Linked DNA regions of Homo sapiens: region 1 is linked to region 2. Evidence: fine-mapped expression QTL. Tissue or cell type: blood mononuclear cells. Region 2 holds a variant in brackets; the other region holds the start of a gene. All regions are shown on one strand. Distances are from middle to middle.

Evidence for each region. PIP is the estimated chance that this variant, and not a neighbour inherited with it, causes the effect.
Region 1: it holds the start of PSME4, and the variant in region 2 is fine-mapped to the expression of PSME4 in blood mononuclear cells (TOPMed, PIP above 0.99).

The regions. Positions count from the first base shown.
Region 1 is chr2:53,966,582-53,974,688 of GRCh38, forward strand. It overlaps PSME4 (proteasome activator subunit 4), which reads right to left and starts at 4,412. Exons shown (of 47, transcript NM_014614.3): 1 at 3,962-4,412. The coding sequence starts at 4,203. It also overlaps a transcript of ACYP2 not described here. RefSeq lists enhancers at 3,260-4,024, 4,291-4,585, 4,881-4,930 and silencers at 4,081-4,280, 4,255-4,416, 4,291-4,680.
Region 2 is chr2:54,027,820-54,035,926 of GRCh38, forward strand. It overlaps a transcript of ACYP2 not described here, the pseudogene RPL21P30 and the pseudogene LOC124906138. Among named protein-coding and RNA genes, the nearest start is that of PSME4, 61 kb to the left of the region's middle. The variant A/G (reference allele first, on the strand shown) is at 4,588.

The DNA of each region.
Region 1 (8,107 bases), 61 kb before region 2:
TAATGTTGGAGGCAAGGCCAGATACACCTCACGTACAGATAACCTGAGGTGTTCTAACGAGCACCCGCAGCCCCTCATGAAAGGTCCAGAAAGGCAAGAGGGCAAAATCAAGTTTTTTGGGGTTTTTTTCTTTGTTGTTGTTTTTAAGATGGAGTCTCGCTCTTTTGCCGAGGCTGGAGTGGCGCTTGGCTCACTGCAACCTCCACCTCCCAGATTCAAGCGATTCTCCTGCCTCAGCCTCCTGAGTAGCTGGGATTAAAGGCGTGCACCACCATGCCAGGCTAATTTTCTTAATTTTAGTAGAGATGGGGTTTCACCATGTTGGTCAGGCTGGTCTCGAACTCCTGACCTCGTGATCCGTCTGCCTCGGCCTCCCAAAGTGCTGGGATTACAGGCATAACAAAATCAAGTTTTAAGAATACCTTTCTTCAACTCCCTTCATTCTCTACATGGGCCATACAAGTTATCTACCAATATTTCACTCACAGTGTCCATGAGCTGTCTGCCATTGTCCAAAGACCATTAATTTGTTCCTACTTTCTCTAATTTGTTTCAACTTCTCTGATTTGTTTCTTCCCTTATTAAAAATTTCCCTTGTGATGTGTTACATCACACAACCTCTCTTGACCAGACAGTTCTAGTACTTTAAATTGTCTGTACAGGAAAGCCTCTATCACATGGCCAAGTATTTAAAAATATAGAAATAACCTTTCTTCAGAGATGTTAAACAGACCTGCAAGTTTCTAAATGGACTGAACTACTAAAAATGAAGAAAAAAGTCAAAAAGAAGGCTGGGGCGGTGGCTCAGCCTGTAATCCCGCACTTTGGGAGGCCGAGGCACACAGATCACCTGGGTTCGAGACCAGCCTTGCCAAAATGGTGAAACCCCGTCTCTACTAAAAATACAAAAATTAGCCAGGCGTGGCAGCGCACAACTGTAATCCCAGCTACTCAGGAGGCTGAGGCAGGAGAATCGTTTGAACCAGGGAGGTGGAGGTGGAGGTTGCAGTGAGCCACGATAGTGCCACTACACTATCTTGTGTCTGGGCAACAGAGTGAGATTGTCTCAAAAAAAAAAAAAAAAAAAAAAAAAAAAAAGTCAAAAAGAGGGACCAAATGTAAAGCCTGAGAACCTTCCAAACCAGAACTTGGTCCCAAACACACCTCTGATGTCCAGATTACGGGTGCACATTTCTGATCAGCAAGATAGTCCCACTAACTCTCAACTGCATTTACACTTTGGTCTTTAGGAATGTACTTGATCTATGCAACTGTTTCCAGTATTTTACAAATTATTCAAACAGTTCTTGTAGAAAGATACACACAATGACTGATGTGAAGCTTGACAGGATTAAAAAAATAAAACTGCAGAATACCAGAGTAGAAATGCTTCTCAAGAATTTAGTCCAGGCCGGGTGCGGTGGCTCACACATGTAATCCCAGCACCTTGGGAGGCCGAGGTGGGCAGATTGCTTGAGGTCAGGAGTTCAAGACCAGCCTGACCAACATGGTGAAACCCTGTCTCTACTAAAAATACAAAAAAAGTAGCCAGGCATGGTGGCACTCGCCTATAATCCTACCTACTTGGGAGGCTGAGGCAGGAGAATCGCTTGAACCCGAAAGGCAGGGATTGCAGTGGGCCAAGATCCTGCCACTGCACTCCAGCCTGGGCAACAAAGCAAGACTCCACCTCAAAAAAAAAAAAAAAAAGAATTATTTAGTCCAATCCCCTCATTTCACGCACAAGCATACTGAAACACATGATTAAGTAACTTTCCCACAGTCTCAGAGCTAGTGGGAGAAACTAGATTTTCTTTTCATTACCACTTTCTATTCTACAAAGTACTAAATATGATCACCACTCAGCTTTCGTCACACGTTTTGGCATTATTCAGATGTTCACTTATGCAACACAGAAGGCTTAAAAAACAACAAGCACAACTATGAACAGGTCACCTTAACATGACTTAGGAAAAAAACACACCCAAGATCACAACATGTCCCACCGCATTCAAAATGTCTCATAGTGCAATATCAAGAATCAGTTTCCAGCATCTAACCACTATTCCAAAATAAAATTCTACCCAGTAGCATTTCTTGCTGGTTATTTAGCTATAAATGGTTATGGGTTCATGGGTATTAAGCCATCAGCTATCTGCAATCCAGCCCTAAACACCAAACATTAGCTCCATTGTTATTTTTAGCCCTTTCTAGGTACAAACTTTTATCTAATAAGCCAAAACAATAACAAAACTCGGAGTGCTAATTTACCAAACTTGTTAACAATAAATACTTTAGAAAACAATGCTTAACTATGCCTTGGTAGATTCTAGGTTTATAAATCCAAAGCAGATATGCCTTCACACCATGGCATATTTATATAATGTACACTAAAAAAAGCTGTTTGCGTCCCCAAAAATGGTAGGTATTCTCTGGCAAGTCTAATCCAAGTGATTAAAATGGGGAATTACTGTAACAAAGTGACTATTTTTACTGTGCCTGAGCAACACAAAAACCTAGGAGTCTCACTTGAAAAAGCATTTGGATTTTAACTATTTATAAAATATTCTTTTTTGACTAAACGTGGTTCTCCCTGTTGCATTCCTGCTTCTGCCGCCCCTCACCTCCATTCTCCTAAGGATCCTAACACGAAAAACTTCATTATACTCTAGTCAAGGGGAGAGCTGTTAACCTTGACATTTTATGATCACTCTCTGAAGAGGGCAAATTACATGTTTTAGTTTTGCTTCTTTTTAATTAAAAAGGTCCCACCCACCCCTCAAGTGGAAATGAGAAATTTGTCAGAGGCCCCTTAATAATTGGCAGATGAGAATCATCCAGTGAATATACACAAAACTATTACAAAACCCTGAGTCATCACTCAGTTCAATCAGCAGCTTTGGGTAAACACTGAATGAGTGAGTTATGTCTTGTGTGTTCACCCGTCCATACCCACATGCGTGAACATACCATGTTACTAGATTTTATGTACAGTTAACCAAACAAGATACAGCAAAATTCTTTCTTAAAAAGCTCTTCGGACACAGTAAAGATGCCCATCCAGCAAGTAAATGTAACCTTTTTTCCCCCACTGTATTTTCACTCGTTTTTTTTTTTTTTTTCCTAATTTCAGTGACACTATAGTTTGAAGCTAGTTTACAAACAGAACTCCTGAAACTGATTTAGGTAATCTCTTAATCTGAGTAACTCAAAAAATTAACACAAGCCTGATACTAATATCGCCCTGGACATCCTGACAGTGCTCTTCCCTACTTTCCTCAGTATCTTAAATGTCTCTCCAAAAGAAATGTCACAACAGGAGCAACACACAATCCAAAACAACACTGTCCACATAAGACGTTAAGCTCAAGAATGAGGTCTGACTTTAAACGACCCTTTTCGATCAACTCCGCCAGGTCTGAGAGGGCCCCCAAAAAGCAAAACCCTTAAGTTTCCCTATGGTCTTCTCTCCATTCAGAAAGTTACTAGACGCCAACGGAGATGCGAAGAGGCGGGGATCGTAGGGGAAGGAAGAACCGGAGGAAGCAAGGAGACAAGTCAAGGAACTCCCCCAAAGACAAATTCTCTTTGCCCCGCCTCTCCCATGCGCAAAAGTCCACGGAGGACCCTTGAGAAAGGCTCACCTCTCTCCCTCGGGGCCGGGGCCCTTGGGCTACCCAGGGCCCCCCAGGTGGGAAGACAACAACCCGAACACTTCGGGAGAAGCAGATGCGGAGGACGTAGAGGGATGGTAAAGACCCGGGAAGTCCCGTAGGAAAGTGGCAGGGAGGACGGCTTGAGTACTTCACAGGCTCTGTCACGACCCTGGGATCACCGCTCGGGGACAGCTCCAGCGAGGACAGAGCTAAGGGTCCAGCCCTCTGGACAAAGAGCAACCATCCCCGACACCTCTCACTGAGCCTTTCCCCCCGGCCCGGCCCGCAGGCCCGGGCACACTTACGTGGAGAGTTTCCTGGTCCAGAAGAGGCCCCCGGGCCACAGCTCTTGGAGCTGCACGGCCCGGCCCAGGTTGCATTTGATCTGGGCCAGCTGCAAGTCGGACTCGGCGTCTAGCCGCTCCGCGTAGGGCAGCAGCTTGTTGTAGACGATCTCCTTCTGCGGGACGAAGCCCCGCGGGCCCGGCTCGGGACGCCCGCCCGGCTCCGGGGGCTCTCCGACTCCCGCCCGCTCGGCCGGCTCCATGAGCCCAGGGACACCCCCCCCACCCCCTCCCACCCGAACCCTCCCCGGCCCCCACCCCTCTCCGGGCTCCGCCTCCTCCGCGTCTTCGTCGCCCTGCGGCCGCTGGCGGCCCGTCGCCCTCGGACCGATCGCTAGGCCCCCTTCCCTGGCCGGCGTGCTGCTGGGCCCCACGCGGCTCTCAGTTCGTTGGCGGCGGCAGCGGCCGCTCTGCCCGCCCCGCACCGGCTCTGCTGGTGACGCTGCAGCCGCCGGGCCCAGAGGTTCCGGACCGGCCTCAAGTCACTTCCGGGGCGGGGCGGGGCGGAGCGACGGCGTCGGGGGAGGCGGTGGTGGCGGCAGCTGGAGCCCAACGGGCTGCGCCTTCTTCGCCGTGGGCCCGGCTCGGAGCCCCCACCCCAGGCCTCACCGGCCCAGCGCGAGGCTGCCTCACCGGAAACACGAGGCCGAATTCCAAGCTATTGTCCTGCTTCGCCGGGGGTCGCGCACTCCAAGCGGCAGCCCACTGGAGTCCCAGTCGCCACGACAGGCGGCAGCCAGGTCGGCCTGGTCCCCCTAGCCGAGCAGCCCCGGCTTCTGGGTTAGAGGGGTTTATGGAAAAGCCTACGTACCCACTTGCTCCTTATAGATTTATTTACTCCATCCCGCTTGTTCCTTATAGATTTAATTTTTCTGTCCCCTTTAAGTCCCCATCTTTCTGGTATTCTGGCCGCCATCATTCCAAAGAAGAAAATAGTTACTCGCTGAACAAATGCTATTTGAACAGCTGTTTTGTGTGTAAGGCGCTCAGTTTAGGCTATTGAGATAGAAAGTTTAACCTGGTTTCCGCCCTCCCAAGGACTTAGTCTAGCAGAGATAAAGACGTGAATTACAAGATAATGCTCTTAATTGCTAGATAAGTACAAGAATCCTTAGGAACTCTACAAAGAAGTTGAAACTAGGGGGTTTGAGAGGGTGTCATTTTCCTAGAAGTGATACTTAATTTAAGCTATGAAGGTTGAGTGCAAAGTTGGTTAGAAAAAGGAGGGAGGAGGACACGTATTTCAGCTGAGAGAACAGCTTTGACGCTGCAAGCATGTATTCTAAAAATTCAAAGTTCAAAATAGCGTAAGAGAGGGGACGGAGAAATGAGACTGAGAAGGCAATCCTAAGGAATTCAGAGCTTTATCCTAGAGACAAACTTCCAAAAGATTTTAAGCATAGCAGTGGGATGATATAATTTACATTTTTTAAGAATTACTCTGGCGGCCGGGCGCAGTGGCTCACGCCTGTAATCCCAGCACTTTGGGAGGCCGAGGCGGGCGGATCACGAGGTCAGGAGTTCGAGACCAGTCTGGCCAACATGGTGAAACCCCGTCTCTACTAAAAATACAAAAAAGTTAGCCGGGCGTGGTGGCGGACGCCTGTAATCCCAGCTACTCGGGAGGCTGAGGCAGGAGAATCGCTTGAAACCGGAAGGCGGAGGTTGCAGTGAGCCAAGATCGCGCCAGGGCACTCCAGCCTGGGCAACAAGAGCGAAACTCCGTCTCAAAAAATAAAAGGGCCAGGCGCGTGGTGGCTCACGCCTGTAATCCCAGCACTTTGGGAGGCCGAGGCGGGTGGATCACGGGGTCAGGAGATGGAGACCATCCTGGCTAACATGGTGAAACCCCGTCTCTACTAAAAATACAAAAAAATTAGCCGGGCATGGTGGCGGGCGCCTGTAGTCCCAGCTACTCGGGAGGCTGAGGCAGGAGAATGGCGTGAATCCGGGAGATGGAGCTTGCAGTGAGCCGAGATCGTGCCACAGCACTCCAGCCTGGGTGGCAGAGCGAGACTCCGTCTCAAAAAAAAAAAAGAGTCACTCTGGCTTCGTCTGGAAAATGGGTTGGAACTGACAAGATTGGGAACTGGAGGACCCTTTAAGGTGTGACATAATCATGGCCTGGATGTCAGTTGAAATTGAGAGCTACTTCAGCAGAATGGCTTGGGCTTAGTAGTTGACTGAAAGTGAAAAATTAAAAAGGAAAGAGACAAGACGACGCTGGGTAGATAGGTGAAGTCCTTCACTGAGATAAAGAACACAGCAGAAACAGCTTGGGAGGCAGAATGCCTATGGGATGGGTATGTTGACATATGTATCAGGAGGGTGATCTAAACTGAGATGCAGATTAGCGTGTAGATGGACGACAGGAGGGAAGGAAATATACAGTATGAAAAAATAGGGCCCTTCACAAATCTCTGAGGAGCCCCACATTTAAGGACAGACAGAGAAAAGGAAGGTAGGCCACAAAGAATATTCACAAAAAGCAGAGAGAGGAGGAGTTCTAGGAAACTGGGTGTCTCATGGAGAAGCGAACAATCCTACCTTAGGTAGCTAACAGGTCAAATGAAGTGAAACCTGAAAGGGTTTATTGGATAGTTTATTGATAAAGCGCATAAGAACAGTGTCGTTGGAGTGTAGAATAGAAATCTGATTATGGTGACAAAGGACAAATGGGAAGTGAATAAATAGAGGCAGCAAATATGGACAACCTTTTAAAAAATAATGGGGTAGGGAGAGCCGGAAAGAGATGAGTGTCAGGCCTCTGAGCCCAAGCTAAGCCATCATATCCCCAGTGACCTGCATGTATACATCCAGATGGCCTGAAGCAACTGAAGATCCACAAAAAAAGTGAAAATAGCCTTAACTGATAACATTTCACCATTGTGATTTGTTTCTGCCCCACCCTAACAGATGAATGTACTTTGTAATCTCCCCCACCCTTAGGAAGTTTCTTTATAATCTCCCCAACCCTTAAGAAGGTTCTTTGTATTTCTCCCCACCCTTGAGAATGTACTTTGTGAGATCCACCCCCTGCCCCCAAAACATTGCACTTAACTCCACCACCTATTCCAAAACCTATAAGAACTAATGGTAATCCCAACACCCTTTGCTGACTCCTTTTTCAGACTCAGCCTGCCTGCACCCAGGTGAAATAAACAGCCATGTTGCTCACACAAAGCCTGTTTGGTGGTCTCTTCCCACGGACGCGCGAGACAATGAGGAGGTACTTGGAATAAAAGGAGGGATTTTTGAATGTGGGATATATATATGTGTGTGTGTGTGTGTGTGTGTGTGTGTGTGTGTGTGTGTGTGTGTATATATTTTTTTTTTTTTTTTTTTTTTTGAGTCTCACTCTGTAGCCCAGTCTGGAGTGCAATGGATCCATCTCGGCTCACTGCAATCTCCGCCTCCGGGGTTCAAGTGATTCTTCTGCCTCAGCGCCTCGAGTAGCTGGGACCACAGGTGCGCACCACCACATCCAGATAATTTTTTTTTTTTCGGTATTTTTAGTAGAGACAGGCTTTCACCATATTGGCCAGGCTGGTCTCGAACTCCTGACCTCGTGATCCGCCCGCCTTGGACTCCCAAAGTGTTGGGATTACAGGCTTGAGCCACTGAGCCCGGCCATATTTAGATATATTTAAATATGGATGAAAAGGAGCCAGTGGAGAGAGAAGTTAAAGATATTGGGTGAGGACGACAAAGAGCGGAAGAGAATGTGGAGTCATTGACCTTTAGAAGCAAATCAAACTGTGCTTCCATTGTCAGAGGAGGAAAGCAGGGAAGGAAGCATAGGTGCAGATGCTGGAATGTTTGGTACTGGAAGTTGGAGAAGTTCTTTCTATAGTTTCTATTTTTTCCTATGAAACAAGACAATGAGAATTATAGGGAAGTGGTAGGTAGATTTGAGGAAATTGAAGAAGCCTTAGAGTAGTCTCAGAATTCAGAAAATTGATTTAAAAAGTTAGAATTGTTTGGCAGGTAAGGCTGGAAGCTTGAATTTACTATTATCTATCTGCACAATTTAATGATTTTTTCCCTAATACTGTTTAGTGGCCCAGGATTGTGTGACATACAGTATATACTAGTGACATACTAGTA
Region 2 (8,107 bases):
TGTTTCTTTCTTTCTTTCTTTTTTTTTTTTTTTTTTTTGAGACAGAGTCTCACACTGTTGTCCAGGCTGGAGTGCAGTGTCACGATCTCAGCTCACTGCTGCAACCTCCACCTCCCGGGTTCAAGTGATTCTCCTGCCTCAGCCTCCCAAGTAGCTGGGGTTACAGGTGCCTGCCACCACACCCGGCTAATTTTTGTATTTTTAGTAGAGATAGGGTTTCACCATGTTGACCAGGCTGGTCTCGAACTCATGAGCTCAGGTGATCTGCGTACCTTGGCCTCCCAAAGTGCTGGGATTATAAGCATGTGCCACCGTGCCTGGCCTTAGTCATTATGTTTCTTTGGGCTACTCTTGGCTATGGCAATTTCTCAGACTTTTTTTGTTTTTAATGACCTTGATAGTTTTGAAGACTACTCATCAGATATTTTGTAGAATGTTCTTCAACTGGAATTTGTCTAATGTTTTTCTTATTATTAGACTGGGTTTATGGGTTAAGGGGACGAGAATGTTGGGACTCAGAAACCAATACTCCAAAATATGGCATTCTGACATGCTGAATTGAAGAAAAAGCCTCAAGGTCTCTCTGACTTTCCCGGCAATTCCCCTCAGCCTCCTGGCTCTCAATCTTATTTTTCTCTCTGTAAACATGGGATGATGTTCTCTGAAGTTCCCTCATCTACTTAAAGTCCAGACCCACCAAAGAAGAAAATAGTTATTTCTGGTACCTTCTCTGAGTTTTTATTAACTGAACTCAAATCACAGGAAGAAAGACTGAAGTCTGTCAACACACCTGGATGGACAGACTTTTGTCACAAACCATTGTTTTCTCAGCAGATCCAATAGACTTTGTCCCAGGCCATTGTATGTTCTTCGGTCCCATTGAATTCCCCTAAATACCATTTACTACTCTCCTAAAATCATCCACTCTTCCCCATCTCCCTTTCCCCTAAAAAGAAGGGCATATAACCATCTGTAGTTCATTGCATAGTTGGGAAACGCTCTGTGGTTCTTCCCTGCACACGTTAATAAATTTGCACACCATTTCCCCTATTAATCTTGCTCGGCACAGTGGTTTACTTCTGTAATCCCAGAATTTTGAGAACTGGTGGCTGGAGGATCATTGAGCTCAGCAGTTTGAGACCACTTTGGGTAAGATAGTGAGACCTCATCTCTACAAAATATATATATTTTAAAAATTAGCCAGGTATGGTGGTGTTGCCTGTGGTCCCCAGCTACTCAGGAGGCCGAGGTAGGAGCATGGCTTCAGCCTGGAAAGCTGAGGCTGCAGTAAGCCATGATGACACCACTGTACTCTAGCCTAGGTGACAGAGGGAAATCCTGTCTCAGGAAAAGAAAAAAAAATCTGCCCTTTGTCAGTTGATTTTTCAGTGAACCTTCAGAGGGTGAAGAGGAAGTTTTCCCTTCACTCCTACAAAAACTACAGCGGTGGAGTACCATTTTCATCACACATATCAAGGGTACATACTACCAGCATAACCTCTCACTGTTGATGTTTACCTTGATGACCTACCTGAGGTCATATTTACCAGGTTTCTTACATTTTATTACTTTTTTTTTCCGTCCAGAGGTCATATATATACATATATATACACACATATGTATATATGTATATGTACACACACATATATGTGTATATATGTATTATGCATGAATTCATAGGGAAGTGGTTCCAGCAACTCAGGCTCCTTCCCATTGGTTCTCTCACATTGTCTTCTCTGGGTGGAGCTGACTGGTGCTTCAGTTGAATCCAGGTAACTTTCTCTTTGGCTTCCTTCTTTTTCTGATCATTTTCCTTCATGCGTTTCAGGAAATTCTCTTAGCTTGTAGAGTGCTTAAAGTGCTTAATACCCACGTTAATTCTCTTGGCAGGAATCTTGCCCTTAACTTGTTTGTTTACAACAATGCCAACAGCATGCTGGGGAACATTGTAGGCTCTTCCAGTTTAGCCATGGTGACACTTGGGGGGCATTCCTATTTGAACAGTGCCCACTCCCTTGATGTCTACAATATCACCTTTCTTACAGATTTGTTCCCAGAACCAAGCCGGGTCCGGCTGTGTTTTCTCGAGGCCCGCCAATAATGAGAAGCAGACAAACTAGGAAAGAAGGGAATTTATTGCTGTAACCAGATACAGGGAGAAGGCCCGAGATAATTCCACCAGACCAATTCAAAGTGTTACAATTTTCTTAGTGCTTATGTAGGTTGAGGTTATGAGCCCAAGACCAGTCTAATATTCACCTAAGTCTATTGGTAGCTAATTTTGTTTCAATTAGAAGGTCGGAGGCAAAAAAATGCTTGCTAAGTCTGATTAAACTGTGGGGGCCCCAGGACCTTCAAGGCCTGTCTACTGTGATACTGGAGTGATTATTTCTATCTTATCTCCTTTACGGCTTGGCCTGGCGAGCTGCCTTAGACTCTCCAATGAATCTATTCAAACAGCTGCCTCTGTTACCTTGACTCGTCTCAGATTTCGTCGACTCCTGGCACAAGGAATGTATGACTGTCTCTATTATTTTGGTTTGCTCCAGGTTAGGGAGAAGCCCATGCAAGGCTCCTACTGACCATATGTTTCATTTCTAGCTTTGATGTCTGGGCACTGATTTCCCTAGGTTTAACTATTTGCTCAATGTTAAGGCAGTGCTATGGAAACCTGTCTGTCTAACTGGAGTGCTATGCAGGCCTGTCTGTGTGACTGTCATGCAGCCCCGTCTGTGCAATTGTCAGGGAGAGTTGGCCTGCCACAGATTCGCATATACATGGCCAAAGGAACAACTCCACGTTTTCTAAACGGCCTAGAGAATATCTACCCAGCGCCTCTCCTCTCTCCCTTTGTGTTCGTTATTTTGGCGAATTACTGGAAGACGGCGGTTCCAGCTGAAAGGCCATTTTAATACTTTCAAAATATGTGTATTTTTTTCATTTTTATACATTTGCAAAATAATGTCTCTAAAAAATAATAACTGACCTTTAGTACTCCTAACCTTATTGTTTTCCTTTCCCAAAGTTTCCTTCAGTAGAAATATAAACAAGTTCACCCAAATTAGTCACTGAAGCTCTCCAACTTCCTTTTCTTTTTCATTATGAAGGTCAGATCTGTGCCAATCATTGTGTGTGTGACAGTGACCACAGCATACTCTATGCCCTCAAGAAACTCATCCTCTAGGAGGAGGTGGCCAAAGCAGTAAGGGGCGCAGACACAATGTGACATGTGCTATAACAGAGGAAGTTCAGCAGGTTATGTCTCATTGGTGTCAGGGAAGGCTTCTTGGAGGAAAGCACTTCTTCTTCTTTTTTTATTATTATACTTTATGTTCTAGGGTACATGTGCACAATGCGCAGGTTTGTTACATATGTATACATGTGCCATGTTGGTGTGCTGCACCCATTAACTCATCATTTACATTAGGTATATCTCCTAATGCTATCCCTTCCCCCTCCCCCCACCCCACATCAGGCCCTGGTGTGTAATGTTCCCCACCCTGTGTGCAAGTGTTCTCATTGTTCAATTCCCACCTATGAGTGAGAACATGCAGTGTTTGGTTTTCTGTCCTTGCGATAGTTTGCTCAGAATGATGGTTTCCAGCTTCATCCATGTCCCTACAAAGAACATGAACTCATCCTTTTTTATGGCTGCATAGTATTCCATGGTGCATATGTGCGACATTTTCTTAATCCAGTCTATCATTGATGGACATTTGGGTTGGTTCCAAGTCTTTGCTATTGTGAATAGTGCCGCAATAAACATACATGTGCATGTGTCTTTATAGCAGCATGATTTATAGTCCTTTGAGTATATGCCCAGTAATGGGATTGTTGGGTCAAATGGTATTTCTAGTTCTAGATCCCTGAGGAATCGCCACACTGTCTTCCACAATGGTTGAACTAGTTTACAGTCCCACCAACAGTGTAAAAGCGTTCCTATTCCTCCACATCCTCTCCAGCACCTGTTATTTCCTGACTTTTTAATGATTGCCATTCCAACTGGTGTGAGATGGTTTCTCACTGTGGTTTTGATTTGCATTTATCTGATGGCCAGTGACGATGAGCATTTTTTCATGTGTCTTTTGGCCGCATAAATTTCTTCTTTTGAGAAGTGTCTGTTCATATCCTTCGCCCACTTTTTGATGGGGTTGTTTGATTTTTTCTTGTAAATTTCTTTAAGTTCTTTGTAGATTCTGGATATTAGCCCTTTGTCAGATGAGTAGATTGCAAAAATTTTCTCCCATTTTGTAGGTTGCCTGTTCACTCTGATGGTATTTTCTTTTGCTGTGCAGAAGCTCTTTAGTTTAATTAGATCCCATTTGTCTATTTTGGCTTTTGTTGCCATTGCTTTTGGTGTTTTAGTCATGAAGTCCTTGCCCATGCCTATGTCCTGAATGGTATTGCCTAGGTTTTCTTCTAGGGTTTTATGGTTTTAGGTCTAACATTTAAGTCTTTAATCCATCTTGAATTAATTTTTGTATAAAGTGTAAGGAAGGGATCCAGTTTCAGCTTTCTACTTATGGCTAGCCAGTTTTCCTAGCACCATTTGTTAAATAGGGAATCCTTCGCCCATGTCTTGTTTTC[A/G]TCAGGTTTGTCAAAGATCAGATGGTTGTAGATGTGTGGTTTTATTTCTGAGGGCTCTTTTCTGTTCCATTGGTCTATATCTCTGTTTTGGTACCAGTACCATGCTGCTTTGGTTACTGTAGCTTTGTAGTATACTTTGAAGTCAGATAGCCTGATGCCTCCAGCTTTGTTCCTTTTGCTTAGGATTGTCTTGGCAATTCAGGCTCTTTTTTGGTTCCATATGAACTTTAAAGTAGTTTTTTCCAATTCTGTGAAGAAAGTCATTGGTAGCTTGATGGGGATGGCATTGAATCTATAAATTACTCCCATTCACAATTGCTTCAAAGAGAATAAAATACCTAGGAATCCAACTTATGAGGGATGTGATGGACCTCTTCAAGGAGAACTACAAACCACTGTTCGATGAAATAAAAGAGAACACAAACAAATGGAAGGAGATTCCATGCTCGTGGATAAAAAGAATCAATATTGTGAAAATGGCCATACTGCCCGAGGAAAGCATTTCTAAGGAGGGACCTGAATGAGAAGGAGTTAGTCAGATAAAGCTGGAAAGAAAGAGTTCCAGGCAGAGAAAGTGGCTTCTACAAAAACTATTGACAAAAACCATTGTATGTACAGTGTTGGGTATTTAGGCAGTTTATGAGGATTAAAGCCCAAGGCAAACTAATCAGGGTGAACAAAGAAAGGTGGCTCAGAGCAGTCTGAGCTTTGTGAGGTCTGCGAAATTAATGAGGCTCACAGAGATATGAGTGTGGGAGTGTGGTTAGGCCCCTCAGTCGTGCCTGTGGGCAATTTTTTTTTTTTTTTTTGAGACAGGGTCTTGCGTTGTTGTCCAGGCTGGAGCACAGTGGTCTAACCAAGGCTCACTGCAGCCTTGACCTCCCAGGCATGAGCTATCTTCCGACCTCACCCTTCCAAGTACTTGGGACCCCAGTTGTGTGCCACCATGCCTAGCTAATTTTTGTGTGTGTTTTGTTTTTTTTTTTGGTAGAGACAGGGTCCCACTGTGTTGCCCAGGCTGGTCTCGAACTCTTGGGCTCAAGCAAACTTCCTGTCTCAGCCTCCCAGTGAATTAAGATTACAGGTGTGAGCCACAATGCCTGGCCTATCCACACATTTCTATATGAATTTACTTTTAGGAGAGTGGGGGAATGATGAAAATTGTGTGTTATATAAGGTTTTGCCTAATGTGTGAGAAACACTGGTGTAGACCATGCTGAAGACAATCTGGAGCCCCTGAAAGCTTTCAGGCAGGGGAGTGACATGATCAGACCTGCATTTTGGGAAGATCATTCTGGCTGTAATGTGGAGAACAGACTGCAAGGAGCCAACCAAGGTAGCATGAAGACCAGCCGGATGGCTGTTGCCATAATCCAGGTGAGAAATGATGGTGGTCTGAAGTAAGGTGTTAGTAACAGAAATAAAGAAAGAACATAATGATTTTTTCTCCCTAGATTCTGAAAAGAGTTGGCTTCACTTTTCCCAGAAATACATGCTGTCAAGACCAAATGAATCATAATATTTCAGACATCCTGAAAGATAATGGGGAAATACAGTTATGTGTCACATAATGACATTTTGATCAATGATAGACCAAATATAATAGTGGTTCCATAAGACTGTAATAGCAGTGTTACAGCTCTTTTAGAAGCAGGCTTTTTGGTTTTTGCCAGAAAGCCCAAAATAAAAGAAAAGACTCCCAGCCCTTTGTGAGGCCAAGGTGGGTGGATCACTTGAGGTCAGGAGTTTGAGACCAGCCTGGCCAACATGGTGAAACCCTGTCTCTACTAAAAATACAAAAATTAGCCAGGCATGGTGGTGGGCACTTGTAATCCCAGCTACTCGGGAGGCTGAGGCAGGAGAATTGCTTGAACTCAGGAGGCGGAGGTTGCGGTGAGCCGGGATCATGCCACTGCACTGCAGCTTGGGCAGCAGAGTGAGACTCCAACCTCTACCCCCCAAAATAAGACTATAATACTGTATTTGTATTGTACCTTTTCTGTGTTTAGATACATCTAGATACACGAATACTTACCATTGTGTTACAGTTGCGTACAGTATTCAGTACAGTAACATGCTGTACAGGTTTGTAACCTAGGAGTGATAGTCTATCCCCTATCACCTGGATGTGTAGTAGGCTATACCATCTAGGTTTGCGTAAGTGCAGTCTAAGATGTTTGCACTACGATGAAATTGCTTAACAATGCATTTCTCAGAACATATTCTCAATGTTAAGTGACACATGACAGTATATTTACAACAGGGATATTTCCCATATTTCTTAAATCATATCAATAGTGTAATGGTTAAAAGATTAGACTCATCTGGGCACGGTGGCTCACGCCTGTAATCCCAGCACTTTGGGAGGCCGAGGCGGGTGGATCACGAGGTCAGGCATTCAAGACCAGCCTGGCCAACATAGTAAAACCCCGTCTCTACTAAAAATACAAAAAATTAGCTGGGCGTCGTGGCAGGCGACTATAATCCTAGCTACTCAGGAGGCTGAGGCAGGAGAATCGCTTGAACCTGGGAGGCGGAGGTTGCAGTGAGCTGAGATCATGCCACTGCACTCCAGCCCAGGCGACAGTGCGAGACTACATCTCAAAAAAAAAAAAAAAAAAAAAAAGCCTAGACTCTGGTTAAGAGGTTTAAGAGGTTTGAGTCCTCACACACTGACATTTAAGAGCCCCAGCCTTGGGCAAAATCACTTAACTTCTCTAGGCCCCAGTTTCTTTTTCGGCAAAAATGGGGATTTCAGCTGTTGCTACCATGTTGTGATTTCATGAGCAAAGGTATTCACTTCTCCTACTTTTTAGACCGGCCCTGACTCTAACTAGAGACAATTTCTTTTTCTTTTTCTTTTTTTTTTTTTTTTTTGAGACAGAGTCTCGCTCTGTCGCCCAGGCTGGAGGGCAGTGGTGCGATCTCGGCGCACTGCAAGCTCCGCCTCCCGGGTTCACGCCATTCTCCTGTCTCAGCCTTCCGAGTAGCTGGGAGTACAGGCGCCCGCCGTCATCCCTGGCTAATTTTTTGTGTTTTTAGTAGAGACGTGGTTTCACTGTGTTAGCCAGGATGGTCTCGATCTCCTAACCTTGTGATCCACCCGCCTCGGCCTCCCAAAGTGCTGGAATTACAGGTGCAAGCCACCGCTCCCGGCCTAGAGACAATTTCAAAAGCAAATTGTTCAGTTATCTTTTGAGTAGTGGTATTAAATTTATACTCAACCATCTACATGATCACAGTTTGACCCATTTGTGACAAATTTCAGACAATTCTAGGATTAGAATGGCTACCTATAATTTTCGGTTATAGAAGAGAGTGAAACTTACCTGTTGGCACCAGGCTTTTACCCAATGGTAGATGTTTCCTTCTTATAATTTGTTAACATTTTGGGTGATCATGGAGAAGTACCTTCTAAGGACTTGAGAATGAGGAAATAAGATTGCCCTTTGAGAATAAACTGTAGGATCAGAGCAGAAAAATATTAAATTTCCTGAAGGAGACAGGCTGAGTCTTAGGC